Linked DNA regions of Homo sapiens. The protein of the gene in region 2 interacts with the protein of the main gene of each other region in a pairwise test. Each region holds a gene or a part of one and is shown on either strand. Other genes may lie near its edges.

The links.
Region 1: the proteins of ATL3 (region 2) and ZFYVE27 interact in binary tests that used the Homo sapiens proteins (3 or more experiments, as listed by UniProt).

Annotation. Positions count from the first base shown.
Region 1 is NC_000010.11:97,745,367-97,756,628, forward strand, and holds part of ZFYVE27 (protrudin), read left to right. Parts: intron 1-2,902; coding exon 2,903-2,998; intron 2,999-4,107; coding exon 4,108-4,220; intron 4,221-4,964; coding exon 4,965-5,104; intron 5,105-6,009; coding exon of another isoform or gene 6,010-6,024; coding exon 6,025-6,096; intron 6,097-7,490; coding exon 7,491-7,511; intron 7,512-7,671; coding exon 7,672-7,816; intron 7,817-9,360; coding exon of another isoform or gene 9,361-9,386; exon of another isoform or gene 9,387-11,262. UniProt on the Homo sapiens protein: Key regulator of RAB11-dependent vesicular trafficking during neurite extension through polarized membrane transport. Promotes axonal elongation and contributes to the establishment of neuronal cell polarity.
Region 2 is NC_000011.10:63,666,063-63,677,124, forward strand, and holds the start of ATL3 (atlastin-3), read right to left. Parts: upstream 5,274-11,062; coding exon 5,228-5,273; intron 1-5,227. UniProt on the Homo sapiens protein: Atlastin-3 (ATL3) is a membrane-anchored GTPase that mediates the GTP-dependent fusion of endoplasmic reticulum (ER) membranes, maintaining the continuous ER network. It facilitates the formation of three-way junctions where ER tubules intersect.

The DNA.
Region 1 (11,262 bases), on a different chromosome or scaffold from region 2:
GACCGGGTTTCACCATGTTTGTCACGATGGTCTCGATCTCTTGACCTTGTGATCCGCCCGCCTCGGCCTCCCAAAATGCTGGAATTACAGGCGTGAGCCACCACGCCTGGCCCTGTTCTTTCTGCTGGAGAGACAGTTTAGGGTCTTGACTAAGCATGTGCATGTATAAGCCACTGCCTGGGTTCAAATCCCAGCTCTTCCATTTACTTGCTGTGTAACATTGGGCAAGTTGCTTAGCCTCTGTGTGTCTCAAGTTTCTCATCTGTTAAATGGAATGATAACAGGGCTTACTCAGAAGGTGGTTGTGAAGATTGAACAGGTGTCTTGTACTGGGGAAGTGTTGAGTAGATATTAGTTATCATCACTACACTGTGGAGAAACTTCGTAAACATGACAGAGCTGGTACTTCTGAGGAAGCATTTTAAGACTTGAAAAATATTCATCTAACAACTTCAGTAGCAGTGGACGTTTACACCTCCCTTCCCTGGAGTGGGGTCTCTGCATTCTCTTGAAATAGAATAGGGGCAAGAAAAGTTATAAACAAACAGATGGCTGGGCCTCACCCCAGAAATTCCGAGTCAGTTATCTGGAGTGGGGCCTGGATATGTAGTTTTTTTAAAAAAGACTTTCTTACTTTGAAATAGTTTTATATATATATACACATATATATATATATATATATATATTTTTTTTTTTTTTTGAGACAGAGTCTTGTTATGTAACCCAGGCTGAAATGCAGTGGCGTGATCTCGGCTCACTGCAACCTCTGCCTCCTGTGTTCAGGCGATTCTCGTGCCTCAGCCTCCAGAGTAGCTGGGATTACAGGCATGTGCCACCATGTCCAGCTAATTTTTGTATTTTTAGTAGAGATGAGGTTTCATCATGTTGGCCAGGCTGGTCTCGAACTTCAGCCTCAGGTGATCTGCCTGCCTTGGCCTCCCAAAGTGCTGGGATTGCAGGCATGAGCCACCGCACCCAGCCTGAAATAGTTTTAAACTTAAAGAAGTACAGGAATAATACCAAGAATGCCTTTTACCCAGATAGAACAATTATTAACATTTTGCCATGTTGGCTTCGTCTATCTCTCTACATATACATATTCTTTTCTTTTTCCTAAACCATTTGAAAGTAAGTTGCAAACGTGACTTAATACTTCAGCGTGTATTTCCTAAGAACAAGGACATTCTCTTAAATATCCACAGAGCTGTAATCAAAATTAGGAAACTTAACGTTGATAACTAATGTATAATTCGTAATCGGATTTTACCAGTTGTATTAATAAAGTTCTTTTTCTTCTTTTATTAATTTTTTTCCTTTTTTCTTTTTTTTTTTTTACTTTTTGAGACGGAGTTTTGCTCTGTCATCCAGGCTGGAATGCAGTGGCATGATCATGGCTCACTGCAGCCTCAACCTCCTGGACTCAAGTGATCCTTCTGCCTCAGCCTCCTGAGTAGCTGGGACCACAGGCACATGCACCATACCCTGCTAATTAAAACAATTTTTTTGTAGAGATAGGGTCTCATTGTCTTGCCCAGGCTGGCCTTGAATTCCTGGGCTCTAGCAATCCTCCTGCTTCAGCCTCCCAAAGTGCTGGGACTACAGGTGTGAGCCAGTGTGGGTGTCCTAATAAAGTTCTTTGTATCAGTTTCCCTGATCTGGGATCCAATTCAGGATTATACATCATGTTTAATTTTTTTATGTCTCTTTAGTCTTCTTTAATCTGGAGCAGTTCCTCAGTCCTTGTTTCTTGTGACCTTGACATTTTTGAATAGTACAAGCTTATTATTTTGTAGAATCTCCCTAATTTTTGGATTGTTTGGTTCCTTGTGATCAGATTTAGAGTGTGACAAGTGATGTGTCATGTTCAGTACATCCGTATCAGGAGGCACCTGATGTCAGGAAATACTGACTTTGATCACTTGGTTAAGGCATCCATACTGTAAATTATCATTTTACTCTTCATTAGTAGTAATTTGAGGGGAGATACTTTGAGACTATGTAAATATCTTGTTCCTCATCAAACATTTATCCACTGCTTTAAAAATCCATTGATGGGTCTTGCCTTAATCAGTTTATTACTATGATGGTTGCAAAGATGATCTTCTAATTATTCTATCGACATTTTTTTAGCTGGCTTTCTACTATAAGGAAGCTCTTTCTTACTATTATCAGTATGAACTCATAGATTTATATTTTATTTGATGAGTTAGAATCTATTACTATCATTATTTATTTTGATCTCAAATTGTCCTAGATTTGGCCAGTAGGAGCTCTTTTGAGTTGGCTCTTGTTTGCATTGGTCCCTGTCATTTTTGAATGCTTCCTTTATGGTACAACAGGATGGTCAAATTCATCTTATACTTCCCTGCCCCAGCCCTGGAATCAGCTTATCTCCATGTTTCCTGGTTTCCCTTCAGAAACCCAGATCTGGGTTCAGATTGTGCTCATGGCTTCTGTGGTTCATCCATGTTTAAAAAAACAACAACCAGAACTCCCCAAGTGAGTCTGTTTCACATCCCAGGTAGAGAATATCATGCCATTTATTCTGACAGCTGCTGTGTACCCGTGAGGTGGGTCCTCTGATCCTCATTTTATAGATAAAGAAGCCACAGCCCTGGAGAATTTCAGTAGCCTGCCTGACATCAACAGTTAGAAGACCAAAGCAGGAACATTTATACTGTTTCCACCTCAGCAAGAGGCTCCAAAAAGGGGACTGAAATGTAGCTGGGGTGGCTTAGCCAGGCCTGTTTCTCCCATGCTCTCTCGACTCCTCTCTCTTTAAGCACATGGTGAGTGTGTTTAAAGAGATTGACCATCCCTAGCCAACTGTACCTGCAAGGCCCCAGGCTCCACTTCCCAGGGCTTCTGTCCTGCCCACTCACCAAAGCCCCTGTGTCTGTAGCTTGATCCAGCTGGAGGCCTTCCTGAGCCGCCTGTGCTGCACATGTGAAGCCGCCTACCGCGTGCTGCACTGGGAGAACCCCGTCGTGTCCTCACAGTGAGTGACCCCTCCTCTCCCGCCACCACCCTATAGGAATTTGCAGCTTGAGCCCGAGCAAAGCCAGCTGCCTTGAGAGGACCTCTGCCCCTCTTACCTCAGGGGAAGAGCTCGCCTCCTGGGCTCTTGTGTGTATATCTGCACATATGCTTGCGGGCTCTAATGTACTGCTTTTGTTTAGATGCTTGCTTTTATGTGTGGTAAAAATAATAATAGAAAAATAACTCACCATATAATCCACCATGCAGCCGAATCTCTTGTTTGTTTTGCCTGCTAGAATTTGTCACATGCATCTACTTTACGGATGTATAGTTTCATAGTGTATGTTCAATTTTTCTTTTGTTTTCCACTTATCATTATATTAAAGATGATTTTCTTTGTTGCTATATAGCTTTTGGAATTATTTATAATACCAGATTAATATAGATGGCAAATATAATTTGTGAAACCATTCTGTTACAGATTTAGTCAATTTCCCTTTTCATTACTAACCCCATGGTAAACATTTTTATGGATTTAGCTTTAATGTTTTAGAAAATTTTTCTTGGAGTAAATTCAAGGATGAAACTACCATATCAAACAGAATGGGTGTTTTTGAGGCTCTTTAATATGAATAATAGTGATAACTAATGTTTGTTGTGTTCACCTGGTGCCAGGCACTGCTCAACACTCCCTCTGTATTATCTCACTCTTATAGTAACTCTATTAGGTAGGCGCTACTTCAGTCCCCATCTTACACGGGAAGGGAGCTGTGCCCAGAGAACCAAGAGACTTCTCAGAATGAGAAGTGGCAGAGCTGGATTCAAATCCCAGTCTGTCTTACTCTAGACTTCAGAGTCTAGACCTTAAGGAGTGATGATGGTTGAACCAGTTTATGTGCCACCAGCTGACACCACTTTGGCCTCACCAGCATCAGGTGTTTGCACCGGTGACTTGGGATAGTTCTCAGTCTTCATCGCCATTTTCCGCTGGTTTGATGAGCGGCTCTTGTCAGTTTATTAATGTGCCCAGAGCTGTGTCTCACCTGGACCCTGCTGTGGGTGTGCTCCAAACCCGTCTCCTTCTGCTGTTACGAATTTCTGATCTTGTGGTTCTTCCCTGTCATCCAGGTTCTATGGGGCTCTTCTGGGCACAGTCTGCATGCTGTATTTGCTGCCACTCTGCTGGGTTCTCACCCTTTTAAACAGCACGCTCTTTCTGGGGAATGTGGAGTTCTTCCGAGGTAAGCCCTGAAGGGCCTGAAAGATGGGGCCCAAGCTGGCTCTGAGGGCTAGGCTAGGCTCCCCAGTTCTTCTGTCTCTACAGCTAATCATCAGTTTGCTGTGCTTCCACAAGTGCAACACCACACTGGGGTCCTCTCTCATGGGCTCTGCATCTCTGAGATGTTAGATGAAGCTGGAATCTCACCAGGGGAGGCTGCTACCATTGGGCTCCCATCTCCCTTCGCTCCCTTCCCAAGGCAGATGAATCACTGCTTATATGATATGATGGCTTCTGGAAGATGAGGGAAGGATGTTTTTCCCAAAGCTGCCACCCATCCCCTGGGGTGCAGCCACCTGGAGTTGCTACCACATCTCTGTGTGATCCCAGAATACCCCTCTGTTGTCTGGCTTCTAAAGCGCTGAGGCAGTCTGGAGAGGCACTGAGTCGCAGAGGCCCGAGTCTGTACATATGTTTGGGTGATTGCTGTATTTGTTTTCCTCCCTGTGGTAGAGTTATTTATTACAGAAGCCATGATTTATTGAGCATTTACTACATTTAATCTCTGTAGCTGTCTGGGGCAGGTGGTGGTATCTAAGTTTTGTTTAAGAGGCTTAAGTTAGGTGACTCGCTCAGAGTTAGGAGGGTGACTCTTTCCTGTAGTGAAGGGAAGAGAGGCCAGCCAGCTGCAGAAGTGGGTACCCCTAAAGTGCCACTCACGGTGTCTCATTTTTGCCTCCTACCTTGTTCTCCATTCCCTGGGTAGTTGTGTCTGAGTACAGGGCATCTCTGCAGCAGAGGATGAACCCAAAGCAGGAAGAGCATGCCTTTGAGAGTCCTCCACCACCAGATGTTGGGGGGAAGGATGGTCTGATGGACAGCACGCCTGCCCTCACACCCACGGAGGTAAGTGCCACTGTCAGGGCAGAGCCTGCTGTGGCCGCTTGTGGGCCCCCCTGTTATCAGCTTGTTTTTGGCTCCTGGGCTGGCCTCTGTTGTAGTTCCTGCTATTTCCCAGGCCTTAACTCCCCTGAAGTGTTCAATAATAATAATTGTAATAAAAACAGCTACTCCATGCTTCACTGAGTGCTTACCCTGTGTCAGATGCTGCTCCAAGTGCTTTATAGATAGATATTCACATCATGGAGTGCAGGTTCTTTCTTTCCTTTTCTTTTTTTTTTTTCCTTTTTTTTTGAGATAAGGCCTCCCTCTGTCACCCAGGCTAGAGGGCAGTGGGGCAATCACAGCTCACTACAACCTCCATCTCCTGGGCTCAGGCAGTCCTCCCACCTCAGCCTCTTGGGTAGCTGGGACTGCAGGCAGGTGCCACCACGCCCAGCTAATTTTTTTGTATTTTTAGTAAAGATGAGGTTTTGCCATGTTGCCCAGGCTGGTCTCAAACTCCTGGGCTCAAGTGATGTGCCTGCCTCGGCCTCCCAAAGTGCTGGGATTACAGGCGTGAGCCACTGCACCAGGCTGGTTATTTCTGAGAAAGAGATCATTCTCATTTGTGGAAGAGAAGGCTGAGGCACAGAGTGGCTGGTAAGTGGCAGGGCTGGGTCTAAGACCCCAGCCCTGTGGTTCTAGAGCTCGTGCCTTCAACCACTGTGCGATGTGGCCACTGTAGGGCCAGCTGTGCTCGTGTTTCCATCTCCCCCGCCCTGCCAGGCTAGAGGTTGCTCCTTCCTGTGAGTTCCTTCTTTCTTGCCATTGTGCCATTTCGTGGTGTTTTGGGTAGCCTGGATGCTGGCTTGGGGAGGTGGTCCTCTGCCTTAGGGAGCAGCGCTGCCATCCTTCTCCTTCTGTCATAGAGTCTCTCTTCCCAGGACCTCACACCGGGCAGCGTGGAGGAGGCTGAGGAGGCTGAGCCAGATGAAGAGTTTAAAGATGCGATTGAGGTGGGTGGCCCTTCCCCAGCATCCTCTACTCAGCAGGCCAGAAATTGGGTGGTCCTGGAGCTGTTTTTTGTTTTTGTTTTTTAATGTCCAAGTGAGAAGCTAAAACTTGCTGTGAGCTAGAACTCACTGGTTGAAAGAGTGCCACTGAACCCCTCCCCACTCCTGTTTCTGGTTGAGCCAGCTGTCCTGGGTGCCCAGGGCAAGAGTGGCTCTGGAAGTCTCCGGGTAATGCCCTGCTAGGGGAGCTGGACGATTTCTGGCCTTTGCTGGAGACCGTGGGCTTGGTGCCTTTGATATAGGAAAGGCAGCTTTTGAGGAGGCTACTGCCCTGGGTCTCCGCTCTTCTGCAGAGTGAGTTCCGTAAGATGTCCCTTTGCGGGGCTGGGAGGGGAGGTTGGAGAAAGTAGTTGCATGGCCAAGTGCTAGGTCAGAGGAAGTTAAACAGCTTTCTTGATTTTAGGATGGTAATTCAAATTGGTAGTTTGCAGAAGTGTTTTATTTGGCATGCAAAGTTTCAAAATAATTTTTTGAGCCAATGTTTAAATATGGAGAGATTTTTATTAGAACTGCAGGTTTCCAGTTTCTCTGGTAGTCCTGAGTCTGCAGCAGTAGGTGTAGCTAAGGAGCTGCTGTCCCCTTTACGCAGGTCACATGCTGTGGCTACAGGTGGTCCTCAACACCCCCTGCTGTATTTTGTCACTGAGGTCAAGTGGGAGTTGCCATTTGTCACATTTGCGTTTTTGTTTTTCTTAGAGTAGGATATCATTTCTCTTTATTTATTTCTCTTTGTAAAGTGGGAAATTGAGATATAAGAAAAACACCTCGTGGATTTCCACCAGGCCTGTGATTTACCCCAACTCACCTCAATCATACATCAGCCCAGGCCATGCAGGCATTTGACTTTCTGATGGCTAAAAGATTGCTCCAAAACTTTGATATATGATTGTAGACCGTGAATCTTGGTGGAGGGAATATGTAGAGCAGGGGTTTTCAAGCATTTTTGTTCATGACCCATAGTAAGGAACACATTTTGCATCTTGACCCAGGTCACACTTAGGTCTATAAAATATGTAAAACTTAAGTGAAACAAAAGTTTCCGGAAAATACGTTGTAAGGGATATTTTCTTTCCTTTTCTGTTCTATTCAAATAAAGACCTACTAAATTATTTTCACCCAGTTTGAGAAACTGTAGTACCTAGCTTTCTCCAAGGCTGTTTGATGCTGGGATCCTCTTGTGGGGGGCGTCTGTCAATGTCACCATTTGGGAAGTGCGCAGAGCTCAGAGCAGCGCTTCCATGCTTCCTTCTGCTTGGGGGCCCCTCCAGGTAGCTTCTTTCTTCTTGCTATCTTTTTCTTTCTGTTTTCTCTCCTCTTCCCCGCACCTTGGGAGGCAGGAGACCCACTTGGTGGTGCTGGTAAGTGGAAGCCTTGGTGGGTGGGCAGGGGCTGGGCTGGGGAGGGTGGCTGAACCGGCTGCTGCCACACCTCGTGGGGGCTGCCGCGCAGGATGCCTCTGCACACGGGTCCTGCAGCCTTGCAAGAGGTGGGCAGGACTGGAAGGAGCTGTTCCCACAGGAGGATGATGAGGGCGCCCCGTGCCCAGCAGAGGATGAGCTGGCCCTGCAGGACAACGGGTTCCTGAGCAAGAATGAGGTGCTGCGCAGCAAGGTGTCTCGGCTCACGGAGCGGCTCCGCAAGCGCTACCCCACCAACAACTTCGGTGCGGCCAGGGGACAGGGCTGGGCTGGTGGGGGAGTGGGGGTGGACTTCTGGGACTCTAGTGGGGAACACCCAGCCACAGGGGCAGAGTCTCAGAACTGTGGGTACTGACTTGTGACAAGAGCAGGGAGTGAAGGTGTGTCCGCGGGACCCCGGGGAGCTAGCAGATGCCCGGCAGGACTGCTGAGGGAGTGGGTGTGGGTTCCTTCTTGTCCCTCCATCCTGATTGGACATTCAGTTGTGGGAAGACAAGGAACTCAGTTTGGGAAATGCCATCCCAGGACTGTAGAGAACCATAATCCTGACAGAACTTCAGAAGGCAGTGTAGCATGATGGTGAGGAACAGAGTAGAGTCTCACTGCCTGCTGCAAATCCCAGCTCAGCCAGGTGTCCTTGAGCAAATTATTTCACACCCCGTGCCTCAGTTTCCCCTTCTGTAAAAGGGGGATCATCATTCTTACCTCATAGGGTTGTTACAGGTCTCATGTCAAATGAGACAGTAGTACTTACGAAGGGCTAGCACAGTGCTGGTTGGTTCATAGTAAGTAGTGGGTGCGGTTAATGTGGGAGGCCCTGACCCACGCTGTGGGTTCCTAGGATCCTGTCTTGGTCTTTCTTATCCAGCTGGAAGCAAGTTGAAGCAAACATTGTTTCTCTGGACGTGATAGAGCCCTGAGTTCACCTCTCCCCAGCCAGTCCTTATTTTACTGAGGGTCGGGGGAGAGCGGTCAAGGAAGGCAGCTTTGGAGAAGGGTGGACTTGACAGCACAGCTTAGAGACCTGGCTCAGATCAGCAGCGCTGAGAGCTGAGCCACATACAATTATGGTGGAAACCTAGAGTAGCTAGGTTGACCTGGGAGCTGCTGTGCTCCTGAGGAAGGGCCCTCCTGCCTGCTGTCAGATGGGAGCAGGGTAAGGGGGCAGTACTGTGTGTTCTGGTGTTGAGTGAGTTCTAGGGTCTGTGCCCTGGAAGAAGACAATGGAGTTTATCTTGAGGAATTTGACTCAGGGCCCCCAGGGTCCTGCCTTCCTACCCCTGCAGCAGCCAGGGCAGTTGTTTTCTCAGGATTAGATGTCCTGGACAGGCTCTTTCTTTCTGCTGTGTGAATGTCCCCCAGTTATTCAAGATCCCTTTTTTTTTTTTTTTTTGAGACAAGGTCTCACTGTGTCTCCCAGGCTGGAGTGCAGTGGCATGATCACAGCTCACTGCATCCTCGACTTCCTGGGCTCAAGTGATCCTCACAGCTCAGCCTCCCGAGTAGCTGGGACTACAGGCATGTAGCACCATGCCTGGCTAATTTTTGAATTTTTTTTGTAGAGACAGGGTCTTACTTTGTTCCTCAGGCTGGTCTTGAACTCTTGGGTTTAAGTGATTCTTGTACCTTGGTCTTCCAAAGTGTTAGGATTACAAGTGTGAGCCACCACGCCCGGCCCCTTTGTTTTATTTATGCTGCCTGCTGACTTCTGCAGGGCATTCTGTATGTTCAGTGATCTGTTTACCCTCCATACTTGCACATGTGTGATCTCATTTCATCCTTACCGTAGGTGTGACAGGAGCAGGCAGTTCTTAAGGGTTCAGAGCAGCCAGATTCCAGCAGTGCCCGGTAACACTACACACAAGAAGTATTACTCTGGTCCAGCAAATAATTTGTCTATTTCTACAACTTCTAAGTAAAGGTACTTAGCTGTTCCCATTTTACAGATGAATAACCTGAGGTAAAAAGAGTGCTTTGCCCAGAGACTTTGGCCTGGAAATGGTGGAGCTGTGACTCAAATTCAGGTTGTCTGATTCGGCTCTTGTCTTCTTTCTACCTCTTCATCCTCCCTCTCTGTTTTCCCTTTGCCCTTGCGTGTGAAGTCCCTTGTTTTATGCCTGTCCCGCTTTTGTATTTGATTTTTGGTTTGGATAATCTCTACCAGCATGGGCAGAGGCCTTTTCAGCCTCCCTCAAGGATGGCAAGGGCAGAAAGTGCTTCTTTTCCTAAACTCCTCTTAGTTCCTCATCCTTCAAGACCACTTGCTACTTTCCCTTTTCTGAGATGTTCCCAAGCTCTTTGCCATGAGGGCAGGTGTAGCAGCTCTGCTCCTGCGGCCTCTGCTCCTGAACCTGGGTCCTGAGAGCAGGGCGAGGGGAGCTGCTTTGGGGGCTTTCTCCATTTCAGCGACTATAACGAAATACACTAAGCTGGGGGGCTTTTAAATAATGGAAATCTCTCATCACAGTTCTGGAGGCTGGAAGTCCAAGATCAGGGTGTCAGCAGGATCAGGTTCTGGTGAGGTCCATTTCCGTCGTCATAGACAGCACCTTCTCACTGTGTCCTCATGAGAAGGTGGGAGGGGCACGGCAGTTCTCTGGGGCCTCTTTTATAAGGGCACTAATCCCATTCACGAGGGCTCCACCCTCATGACCCGGTCACCTCCCAGGGGCCCTGCTTTGGGTGTTAGGATTCCACATGTGAATGTTAGGGGACTGTGGTGGGGGCTATTCTATTTACCCCTGCCAGTGGATGAGGGGGTGCATGGGGAGAATGAGGGCAGACTGCAAAGGAGCTTCTCTGTGGCCTCCGTATGGGAGAGGTCTTGGTGGGGAGGGCCCCCCTTTGTCCTGGAGGCTCCATGACTGTTGCCCTGGCAGGCCCCACTGGGCCTTAGTGCCCCTGCTGTCATGGCCTCGGTGGCATCGTCACGTGGTGAGTGAGGATGGGTGAGTCCAGGCTGTTGCTGAGAAGGGGCAGAAAGAGTTGGTAGGTGTTGGAAGGGAACGTCACCTGGCTGAGCTGCTCTCAGCTCCCAGAGCCCTCCCTGGCTCCGGTCTGTGAGTGGGTTCACAGCTGTCTCCCCAGCCCACTTGGCTGCCCTGGGGTGCTTGGCCCTGACATTCCATTCAGTTTAGAGGAGACCTTGGGCTCAGGTCAGTGTCAGTCTTTGAGTAGCTCCTTTTGCCTGTCCCATTCCCCTTGTGTCCCTTGCTAAGGAGAGGCTGGGGCAGGCTGCCTTCCCCAAATTCTTGGTGTAGGGACAGAATCTTGGAGCAGCCAGTTTCCTGGTTTGGCACCAGCAGTAGGCTTGTTCTTCTCTTTCCCTGGCTGACTGACAGGGTGGGCATTTACCTGAAGCACCTTGGCCTCAGATTTCCCCTGGCTCTAGCAGAGGTCTTCCTTTCCCTGAACCTAGGGAGTCTCCTTTAGCAAGAACTTCAGGTGATTTTGGCTGGACAGAGGAAGGGACCACATGTAGCCGTCAATAAAGCTTTGGGGCCTTTCTGTGAAAGTGAGGCCTGGTGCTCTGTACTTGCCCAGACAGGTGGTCCGGCTGGGTCATAGCAGGCCTATGGGCCCCACATCCCAGAAACCTCATTCTCTGTCTCTCCTCTCCCCTTACACCCCCTTGTTGTCTTCTAGCCATTTTCTAAGCTGCCGTTGCCCCTCCACTGTTGCCGGGCACTTG
Region 2 (11,062 bases):
CTCAACCTACCGGGCTCAGGCAATCCTCCCACCTCAGCCTCCCAGTATCATCTCACTGCAACCTCTGCCTCCTGGGTTCAAGCAATTCTCCTGCCTCAGCCTCCTAAGTAGCTGGGATTACAGGTACCCACCACCACGCCTAATTTTTGTATTTTTAGTAGAGGTGGCGTTTCACCACCTTGGCCAGGCTGGTCTCGAACTCCTGACCTCAGGTGATCCACCCGCCTCAGCCTCCCCAAGTACTGGGATTACAGGCGTGAGCCACCGCGCCCGGCCTACCCTCTATTTGGATGATACAACTTCACAGATCTCTAACTTGCATTTAGTCTAAATGTACAACTGCCTAAGGGACAGATTCACCTGCTTACTCTCAGAAGTAACCTGTGGAAATATACAAATTTAGGACTCAAAACACAAGTTCCTGTTCCAGCCCTGCCACTAACAACCTGTGTGATCCTGGGCATGTCTAGTTTTCAGTTTCATCACTAAAATGGGTCAAGTGCTAACTGGGTGTGGTGGCTCATGCATGTAATCCCAGCACTTTGGGAGGCCGAGGGGGGTGGATCGCACACCGTGCGATCAAGTGATCTATCCACCTCAGACTCTCAAAGTGCTGGGATTACAGGCATGAGCCACCGTGCCCGGTCCACTTGTCAGGAATCTTAAACTCTGGAGATCTAGTCTCCGGGGAGGGTACTAAAAATATCTGTAAGTGGCAACTTTACATGCCTTGTCCCTTTAGAGAAGCAATTATTTTCCAAGGTCTAATTCTGCATACTGCAACAACAGTTAATGCTGTATTACATTACTTACATGAATATGGATAACGTGATGTTTTTGCACAGACACAAAGCTACAGCTGGACCACTGTTACATCTATCATTCATATGTATTTATGTGAATTTACAACATATGTTTAAAATTCCAGAAATAAACAATTCGTAAGTCTTAAGATTGCAACGCAGTTCTTAGTACCATGATGAAATCTTGTGCTATCCTGCCTGGGACATGAATCATTCCCTTTTCCAGAGTATCCACACTGTATATGCTACCATGCCCATTAGTTATTTAGTAGCCTTCTCACTGATCAACGTAGTGTATACAGGGCTCAGTGCTATCAGCAGTTTCAGGCATCCACTGGGGGCCTTACAATATATGCCCCTCAGATAATGGGGACTACTTCATTGCTGTAAATAGCTCATGATAATATTCTATCACTCATCAGTTCAAGTATGTAGAAAATGTTGAAAATCTTTGTATAATTAGAAAGCATTTTTTTTTTTTTGAGACAGATTCTTGCTCTGTCGCCCAGGCTGGTGAGCAGTGGCGTCATTCCTGCTCACTGCAACCTCCACCTCCCAGGTTCAAGTGATTCTCCCACCTCAGCCTCCCAAGAGTTTAGGATTCCTGAGAAGTGGGCCGGGTGCAATGGCTCACGCCTGTAATCCCACCACTTTGGGAGGCCAAGGCGGATGGATCATTTGCAGCCAAGAGTTTGAGACCAGCCTGACCGATATAGTGGAACCCTGACTCTACTGAAAATTCAAAAAAATTGGCCAGGCGTGGTGGTGCATGACTGCAGTCCCAGCTACTCGGGAGGCTGAAGCAGGAGAATCACTTGAACTTGGGAGATGGAGGCTGCAGTGAGCTGAGATCGCGCCATTGCACTCCAGCCTGGGTGACAGAGCGAGACTCTGTATCAAAAAAAAAAAAAAAAAATGACAGTGTAGACTAGGGTTTCTCAACCTCAGCACTACTGACATATTGACATTGGAGCTGCACAACTGTTGTGGGGGGCTATCCTACGCACTACAGGCTATTGAGCAGCATCCCTGGCCTCTACCCACTAGATACCAGTAACACTCCCCACAACAGGTTCTAACACCCAAAAAACGTCTCCAGTCATTGCTAAATGCTCCAGGGGCAGGAAGAGGCAATATTACCATAGGTTAAGAACCACTGAGTAGAGTCAGCCTTGGTGTTTATCCTTACCATTCAAAGAGTTCTGAATACAAAGTAACCAACCAGTCACAGAAACACTTTGCTGAGTAGATTCATGTATGACTCAGGGTAAAGTTATGACCTGAGTTTTCCAGTCTCCTTATAAAATATCATATTCTCCAAAGGGCAAGAGCAACACACCCAAAACAGAGGCATACCATTTTCATGCCTTGTTCTTGCTGGCAGTCTTTAAGGTTTCTAACTGACAAAGCCAGAGAAAACATCATCACAGGCAAGAGTAAGTATACTAAGACCTTAGCCAACTCTAGAACTGCTGGGTGTGGTTCCTTCTGGTGGTGGAGGGGTGGGTGCTTTTATATACCGTTTTGTCTTAAGGCAGTGATTGTGCCAGTAGATACACTGCAATACGCTTAAGGCTGTTTCAGTGAAAATACTATTTAAATCTAATTAACCAGAATACTGGGCAAATTTTATATTTGTCTGTTGTAGAAAATCTTTTCGCCATAGCACAGAAGGCTGAACAAAACCATATTTTTTGTTGTTGACTAAGGATTGTGTAATGCTTCATAGGTTTACAAAAATTATCTATGACTAAATGGTACTGAAGATTCAGAAAATCCAAGGAGAGGGCTGAATCTGAAAATGATGCCAGGCTATATCACAAGTGGAGGAAAAAAACCTTTTTAATGGAATGAGCTCAGTAACACTTTTGTATCTCTTTCCTAAGAATAAGAATGCCACCAAAGGTTTGAATTAGCTGTGTTCCTTTTTTTTTTTTTTTTTTTTTTTTGAGACAAGGTCTCACTCTGTTGCCTAGGCTGGAGTGCAGTGGCAAGAACAAGGCTCACTGCAGAAAAAAGAAAAAAAAAAAGGCTCACTGCAGCCAACTTCCTGGGCTCACTCCATCCTCTCACCTCAGCCTCCTGAGTAGCCAGAACTACAGGCCTGCAACACCACGTTGGCTAACTTTTTTTTAATTTTTTTTTGGGTGGGGGGGGGCGTCTCACCATGTTGGCCAGGCTGGTCTTGAACTCCTGACCTCAGGTGATCCACCTGCCTCAGCCTCCCAAAATGCTGGGATTACAGGAGTAAACCACAGCTCCCGGCCAAGTAAGGATTTCCTAATTAGCGCCTACTATACCAGGAAAGCCTGTCTTCTAATCTGTTAACATACTTCAGCTGTGAAATATATCTAAGGTGTTCTGACAATCGAAATACCACGCAACTGGGCCAGGCGCCGTGGCTCACACCTGCAATCCCAGCACTTTGGGAGGCCGAGCTAGGAGGATCACCTGAGGTCAGGAGTTCAAGATCAGCCTGGCAAACATGGTGAAACCCCGTCTCTACTAAAAATACAAAAATTACCCAGGCGCGGTGGAGGGCGCCTGTAATCCCAGCTACCTGGGAGGCTGCGGCAGGAGAATCGCTTGAACCTGGGAGGCGGAGGTTGCAGTGAGCAGAGATCGCGCCATTGCACTCCACCCTGGGCGAGAGAGCAAGACTCCTTCTCACCAGAAGAAAAAAAAAGAAAAGAAAAAGAAAATTAAGCTAGTACACAACACCACATCTATCCCGTTACTTCTATTTCATGAATTCTACTACAATGAGGTAGTAAACTGTAGCTAATACAATAATGGGCCGGGCACGATGGCTCACGCCTGTAATCCCAGTACTTGGGAGGCCGAGGAGAGGAGGGTGGTTCACCTGAGGTCAGGAGTTCGAGACCAGCCTGGCCAACGTGGTGAAACCCCGTTTCTACTAAAAATACAAAAAATTAGCTGGGCCTGGTGGCGGATGTCTATAATCCCAGCTACTCGGGAGGCTGACGCAGGAGAATCATTTGAACCCAGGAGGCGGAGGGTGCAGTGAGCCGAGACTGCGCCACTGTACTCCAGTTTAGGTAGCAAAAACGAAACTCCGTCTCAAAAAAAAATAGCCGCGCATGGTGGAGAGCGCCTGTAATCCCAGCTACCCGGGAGGATGAGGCAGAAGAATTGCTTGAACCCAGGAAGCGGAGGTTGCAATCAGCCGAGATCGCGCCATTGCACTCCAGCCTGGGTGACCAGAGCAAAACTCCGTCTCAAAAAATAATAATAAAACAATGTGCTGGACTACTGCAATACTGAGATCCTTCTCAGCCAAGTGTTTACAGGTGTTAGAGCGGCAACAGGAATTTCTGGAGTACAAGCTAATCTCTGTGGGAATGGAAAAAAAAAAGCACTAATTTGAATTTCAGTACCTATGTTGCAATGCTAAATTCTTGACAGGGATTAGTACTCCGTAGGTTATGCTTCTTAAATCTCCAAAAGTAAGCCAATATGTGAAATCGTACATTTTTGGTCCGTTATTCTAAGACTGACAAAACGTTCCATTGCTTCGTATTTGAATTTGAGAACTGAGACTCATTTAAAAATTCTTCACTGTTCTTTTCCTTTTTGCTCTTCGATTTCGCAAGTGAAACGGTCATTTCAACAGCACACACATTACACTAGAATAAAGCCAAGTAAAATGACAGACTAAATCAGATCCGTGAATACACGGTGACTCCTTATTTGGTTTTTAATACTTTCACTATGTTTCATGTCTTCGGGAAAGCAAAAGAACAACGTACTGTGCCAAAAGCACTAACTTACGAAAAACCAATTTAGACCAATTCTTTACAGCGTTAAGTATGGGTTGAAAACCAACTTTCCTAATACTTGTGGTCAGTGCCTCAAGGTCGTTAGGATAAAAATAAAGCTTCCAAGACACTTCGCAGCCTTCCAGCACTTCCAGAAAGGCCAAATAAACCAGCATTCACCTTCCCGCTCCATCCAGGCCCCGATTCTCCGACCAGAGAGGGCGCTGAGTGCCCGGGCACGGAGGGGCAGCGCCCTGGGGCGCCCGGCTCTGCCCAGGGCGGGGCTCGGCGGGGCCGAAGCTCCGGACGCCGCCCACGGGGACCACCGGCCCTTGGGCCGCCCAGGGGCAGCTGCAGCCCAGGGGAGGAGCTGGAGGAGCCCCCGGCGGCACCAGGGCCCGAGCCCTGACGGCGGCCGCCCCCGGCCGAAAAGTAAGGAAGGTGCCGCCCTCGCTGGACCAGCTGGGCCCGAAGAGGGGCCCCCCCACCACAAATTCGGAAACCGAGTGACCCCGGCGAGGGACGCGCGGTCCCAGCCCCGGGACGAGGAAGGGCGGCGGCGCGGGCGGGGGTTCTTTTCAGAACTACAGCAGGGAAGGCGGCGGGGGTGGCCGCGGGGCGATCCAGGGAAAATCGGCGCCTCACCTGCTCCTCTTGAGGCAGCTGCTGCCACTCGCTGAGGGGACAACATGGAGCCTCCGCCTTCAAAGCAGAAGCAGCAGGGGTGCAGAGGAGAGGGACGGGTGCGGGCGGGAACGAACCGGGCCCTGGAAGCGGGAAACGGGCGGAGCCTGGGCTCTAGAAAAAACTAGCCAGAAGGTGGGGCACGCGGAGCCGCGACGGAGCGAGCGCAGCGCGGTCTGCGTGGCCCAACGGACAGCCCGAGGCGTGGCGAGCGCAGGACGAGGCTAGGCGAGGCGGGGCGGGAAAGCGCACGCGGCAGAATCCCGCCACCGCCTGCCGCGTGTGCGCGAAGCGAGCCGCCGGGTACCTGTTGGCGGGGCGCTGAGTGCTACCGTCCTTTGGGAATTGTAGTCCCGCGCTCACTGGGTCCCGGCCAGCGGTCCTCATACTGCGCACTCATCTGGGGCGGGGCTTGGCGTGGTTCTCCGACGACTGAACTACAACTCCCAGCAGGCTGTGCGGGAAGGGGCGGGCTGGCTCGGGTCCTCCTGCGAGCTGCGGCCGGCGCCTAACGTGCAGACCAGGCCCCAGGCCGAGGCTTTATCCTGGAACCACCAGTGTGAGAGACAGCTTTGGTGTTTAACTAGGCCTGGGACCACAGGTGGGCAGAAGAGAGGCCTCAACCCTGGATGGCATGAACGTCACTGGGTCTTTAATGATTTTGACTTCATAAGGGCAGGTGGCCGTGACTTCATTACCACCTTTATTATCATCTCCCTATATTCCTGTCCCTGGCCATGGCTGATGCGCACCATCACCGCTCTGATAGCTAATGTAAGAAGTCCAGGCCGGGCGCCGTGCCTCACGCCTGTAATCCCAGCACTTTGGGAGGCCGAGGCGGGTGGATCACCTGAGGTCGTGGGCGTTCGAGACCAGCCTGACCAACATGGAGAATCCCCGTCTCTACTAAAAATACGAAATTAGCCAGGCGTAGTGGCGCACGCTTGTAATCCCAGCTAGTCCAGAGGCTGAACAGGAGAATCGCTTGAACCCAGGAGGCGGAGGTTGCAGTGAGCCGAGATCGCACCATTGCACACCAGCGTAGGCAACAGGAGCAAAACTCCATCAAAAAAAAAAAAAAAAAACTTGCACGCACATCCCAGCATTCTCTGCTCCTTTTCCCTGCATTACTTTTCTCCAAAAGACTTCATACCACTTGGCCAGGCGCGGTGGCTCACGCCTGTAATCCCAGCACTTTGGGAGGCTGAGGTGGTTGGATCACCTGAGGTCGGGAGTTCAAGACCAGCCAGGCTAACATGGTGAAACCCCATCTCTTCTAAAAATACAAAAAATTAACCAGGCGTGGTGGCAGGCGCCTGTAATCCCAGCTACTCGGGAGGCTGAGGCAGGAGAGGTTGCATTGAGTGGAGATGGCACCACTGCACTCCAGCCTGGGAGAAAGAGCAAGACTCCATCTCAAAAAAAAAAAAAAAAAAAAAGACTTCCTGCTACTATCTGACTTATGTTTTACCTTTCATTGTGTTTGTCTCTTCCCACTGAATGTAAGTTCCAAACAGATAGGAATTTTTGTCTGTTTTGTTTACTTGTATATCCCCAGTCCCTAAATACTGCTGGCAGATAATAGAGACTCAAATATCTATTGAATTAATGGATGAAGAAGATATATGTTACATCTAACACTGCTCACTCACTTTCTGGTTCCTTTAATATTAAATACCTAACTTTTACTATTGAACAAAATACCCTAGTTTATTTTAAGGGCTCCCCAGAGATTCACTGAAATCCAACTTCTCAGGAAGTGACCAGCAAATACTGATATATGTCTCAATATTACATCATCAAGGTATCAAGGTCAATGTTAGCACATCAGCATTGTAGCCCTTGTAGAAGCTTTTGGCATTTGGAACAAAACAGTACAAATTATAGGTGGACTTAAGGATTAGTCACAACTTAGAAAGCAACCCCTGTAAATGAGAAACATGTTTTGTGTTATTTCCTTCTCAAATATCCAGGGTCATCAAAACACTGGACATTGAAAGTGCCAAATATTGACAATACTGGTTACAGCCTGCCTTCAGCTATCTCACTCTGAATTGAGTTATGTGCTATGATCAGAGGTTGAGCTTCCCTTGAGGTTTTCCAGAAGTAGGTGACATGTAGACATATTTGAGTGGACAGACTACTGGCTTTGGGGTCAGACTTACCTGGCTCTGATGTTCACTAGCTATGCAACCTTGGGCGAGCTACTTAACCTCTCTGAATCCATTTCATCATCTGCAAAATGATTTAAAGACCCACACGGTTGTTCTAGGCTAAGTGAGCTGTGTGTTTGGAAATGATGACTGCGTGGTTAGTGATCAAAATTAGTAATCAGCATATTCATTCTGGAAAAGCAAAATAAAGTCATAAATATTCAAGATACTCAAGTGGTTTATGAAACACAAAAATAGCAAAATTGTTTTCTGCAATGGCATCCACCATGACTCAGGTTCCAAAGCTTTCCAAAAATAGGTCATTTGTTATATGCCAGGTACCGTGATAGGCCATAATGCTGCATAAGACACATTCCTATCCTCCAGAGACTCGCAGTCCTGTGGGATAGACAGCTGAGGAAATATCATTCACTGTGACTGTACTGGGACACAGTTCAGCTTTCTGCCCTCTATGTGCAGGATCATTATTTAAGCAACTTGGAAGGGACAAGTTGGAATACTACATCCCTGGGCATCATTTAAATTTCCATACCTTATTTTGCATGTGTGTAAAATGGGGTAATGATTTGGCATCTTCATTTGTAAAAAGAAAATAGCCAACCCCACTTGATAGGGTCTTATAAAGTTGAATATTAGGTCCTCAACATGGTAACATACTGAAAGCTTAAGACCTTGTCAGCTACTTCATTATTGGTATTTCAGCCAACAGCACAGCGGTCTAACTGGGAGGATCTCTTGAGCCCAGGAGTTCAAGACCAGTCTGGGGGCTGGGGGCAGTGGCTCACACCTGTAATCCCTACACTTTGGGAGGCCGAGGCAGGTGGATCACCTGAGGTCAGGAGTTGGAGACCAGCCTGGCCAACATGGTGAAATCCCGTCTGTACTAAAAATACAAAAACTTAGCCAAGAGTGGTGGCAGGCACCTGTAATCCCAGCTACTCCAGAGGCTGAGGCAGGAGAATCTCTTGAACCCGGGAGGCAGTGGTTGCAGCGAGCTGAGATCCTGCCATTGCATCCAGCCTGGGCAATAAGAGCAAAATTCTGTCACAAACAAACAAACAAACAAAACGGTCTGGGCAACATAGGGAGATCCCATGTCTACCAAAAATAAACAAATAAATTAGCCAGGTATGGTGGGGTACCTGTGGTCCCAGCTACTTGGGAGGCTGAGGTGGGAGGATTGCTTGAGCCTAGGAGGTAGAGGATGCAGTGAGCCATAATTGTAGCACTGCATTACAGCCTGAGCAACAGAGCAAACCCTACCTCCAAAAAAAGAAAGAAAGAAAGAAAGAAAGTGGGGGCGGGGGACAGCGCACAGTGGCTCATGCCTGTAATCCCAGCACTTTGGGAGTCTGAAGCATATGGATCACTTAAGGTCACAAGTTCAAGACCAGCCTGGCCAACACAGTGAAACACTGTCTCTACTAAAAATACAAAAATTAGCCAGGCATGGTGGTGTATGCTTGTAATCCCAGCAACCTGGGAGGCCGAGGCAGGAGTATGGCTTGAACCCAGGAGGCAGAGGTTGCAGTGAGCCAAGATCATGCCACCACTGCATTCCAGCCTGGGTGACAGAGCGACTCCACTAAAAAAAAAAAAAAAAAGGCAGTGGGGATGAGGATACAGATTTGCTATATTCACCTTTGCTTATGTTTGCCACAGGAATATCCTAATAGTGGCCAGGCTCGGTGGCTCACGCCTGTAATCCCAGCATTTTGGGAGGCCGAGGCAGGCAGATCACGAGGTCAGGAGATCGAGACCATCCTGGCTAACACGGTGAAACCCCGTCTCTACTAAAAATACAAAAAATTAGCTGGGCGTGGTGGCGGGTGCCTGTAGTCCCAGCTACTTGGGAGGCTGAGGCAGGAGAATGGCGTGAACCCAGGAGGCAGAGCTTGCAGTGAGCTGAGATCGCAGCATTGCACTCCAGCCTGGGCGACACAGCAAGACTCCATTTCAAAAAAAAAAAAAAGAGAAAATCCTAATAGTAGCTACCTATATGTGTGTAGAGGAGTGGAGGGAGTTAGTGATAAAACTTTACAATATATATATTCCTGAATATTTGTGTACGTATATATGAATGATCTGTGACTACATATCAAATTTTTTTTTGAGATAGAGTTTCACTCTGTCGCCCAGGCTGGAGTGCAGTGGCGCAATCTTGGCTCACTGCAACTTTTGCTTCCCAGATTGAAGCGAGTCTCCTGCCTCAGCCTTCTGAGTAGCTGGGACAACAGGCATGTGCCACCAGGCTCGGCTAATTTTTTTGTATTTTTAGTAGAGACAGGGTTTCACGATGTTAGGCAGGCTGTTCTCCAACTCCTGACCTCAGGCAGTCTGGCTACCTCGGCCTCCCAAAGTGCTGGGATTACAGGTGTGAGCCACTGCGCCCGCCCTTCAAATGTCTTAATTTAAAATATATAATTTTTAAAAATTTAAAAATAAAATAAAATATATAATTTTTTCTAAAAGTCAAGAAAATATAGGGTAATTAGATGGCTTAGAAGTTAAACTGGGAAATTATCTGTATAGGCCGAGCACAGTGGCTCAAGCCTGTAATCCCAGCACTTTGGGAGGCTGAGGTGGGCCAATCACCAGAGGTCAGGAGTTCAAGAACAGCCTGGCCAACATGGTGAAACCCCATCTCTAGTAAAAATATAAAAATTAGCTGGGCTTGGTAGCGTGCACCTGTAATCCTAGCCAGTGGGGAGGCTGATGCAGGAGAATTGCTTGAACTAAGGAGGCGGAGGTTGCAGTGAGCTGAGATCATGCCATTGCCCTCCAGTGTGGGCGACAAGAGCAAAACTCCGTCTCGAAAATAAAGAAATTATCTGTATAAGATACCAGTCCTGGCCAGGAGTGGTGGCTCATGCCTGTAATCTCAGCACTTTGGGAGGCCGAGGCGGGTGGATCACCTGAGGTCAGGAGTTCGAGACCAGCCTGACCAACATGGAGAAACCCTGTCTCTACTAAAAATACAAAATTAGCCGGGTGTGGTGGCACATGCCTGTAGTCCCAGCTACTCCAGAGGCTGAGGCAGGAGAATCGCTTGAATCCGGGAGGCAGAGGTTGCGGTGAGCCAAGATCGCACCATTGCACTCCAGCCTGGACAACAAGAGCAAAACTCCGTCTCAAAAAAAAAAAATACCAGTCCTTACTACGTACTCACACATGCACACAAAAATACCAGTCCTATAAAGACAGGGCCAAAGAATAAGAGACCTAGCACAGCGCCTCAGGTGTTCAAGGGAACTTCAGAGAAATGGCCATACTCCAGTGTGCTCTTTATTTTTCTTTCTTTTTTTTTTTTTGAGATGGAGTCTCGCTCTGTTGCCCAGGCTGGAGCGCAGTGGCGCGATCTCGGCTCACTGCAGGCTCCACCTCCCGGGTTCACACCATTCTGCTGCCTCAGCCTCCTGAGTAGCTGGGACTACAGGTACCCGCCAGTAAGCCCGGCTAATTTTTTGTATTTTTAGTAGAGACGGGGTTTCACTGTGTTAGCCAGGATGGTCTCGATCTCCTGACCTCGTGATCCACCCACCTCGGCCTCCCAAAGTGCTGGGATTACAGGCGTGAGCCACCGCGCCTGGAGTTATTTTATTTTTCAAGATGAGGTCTCGCT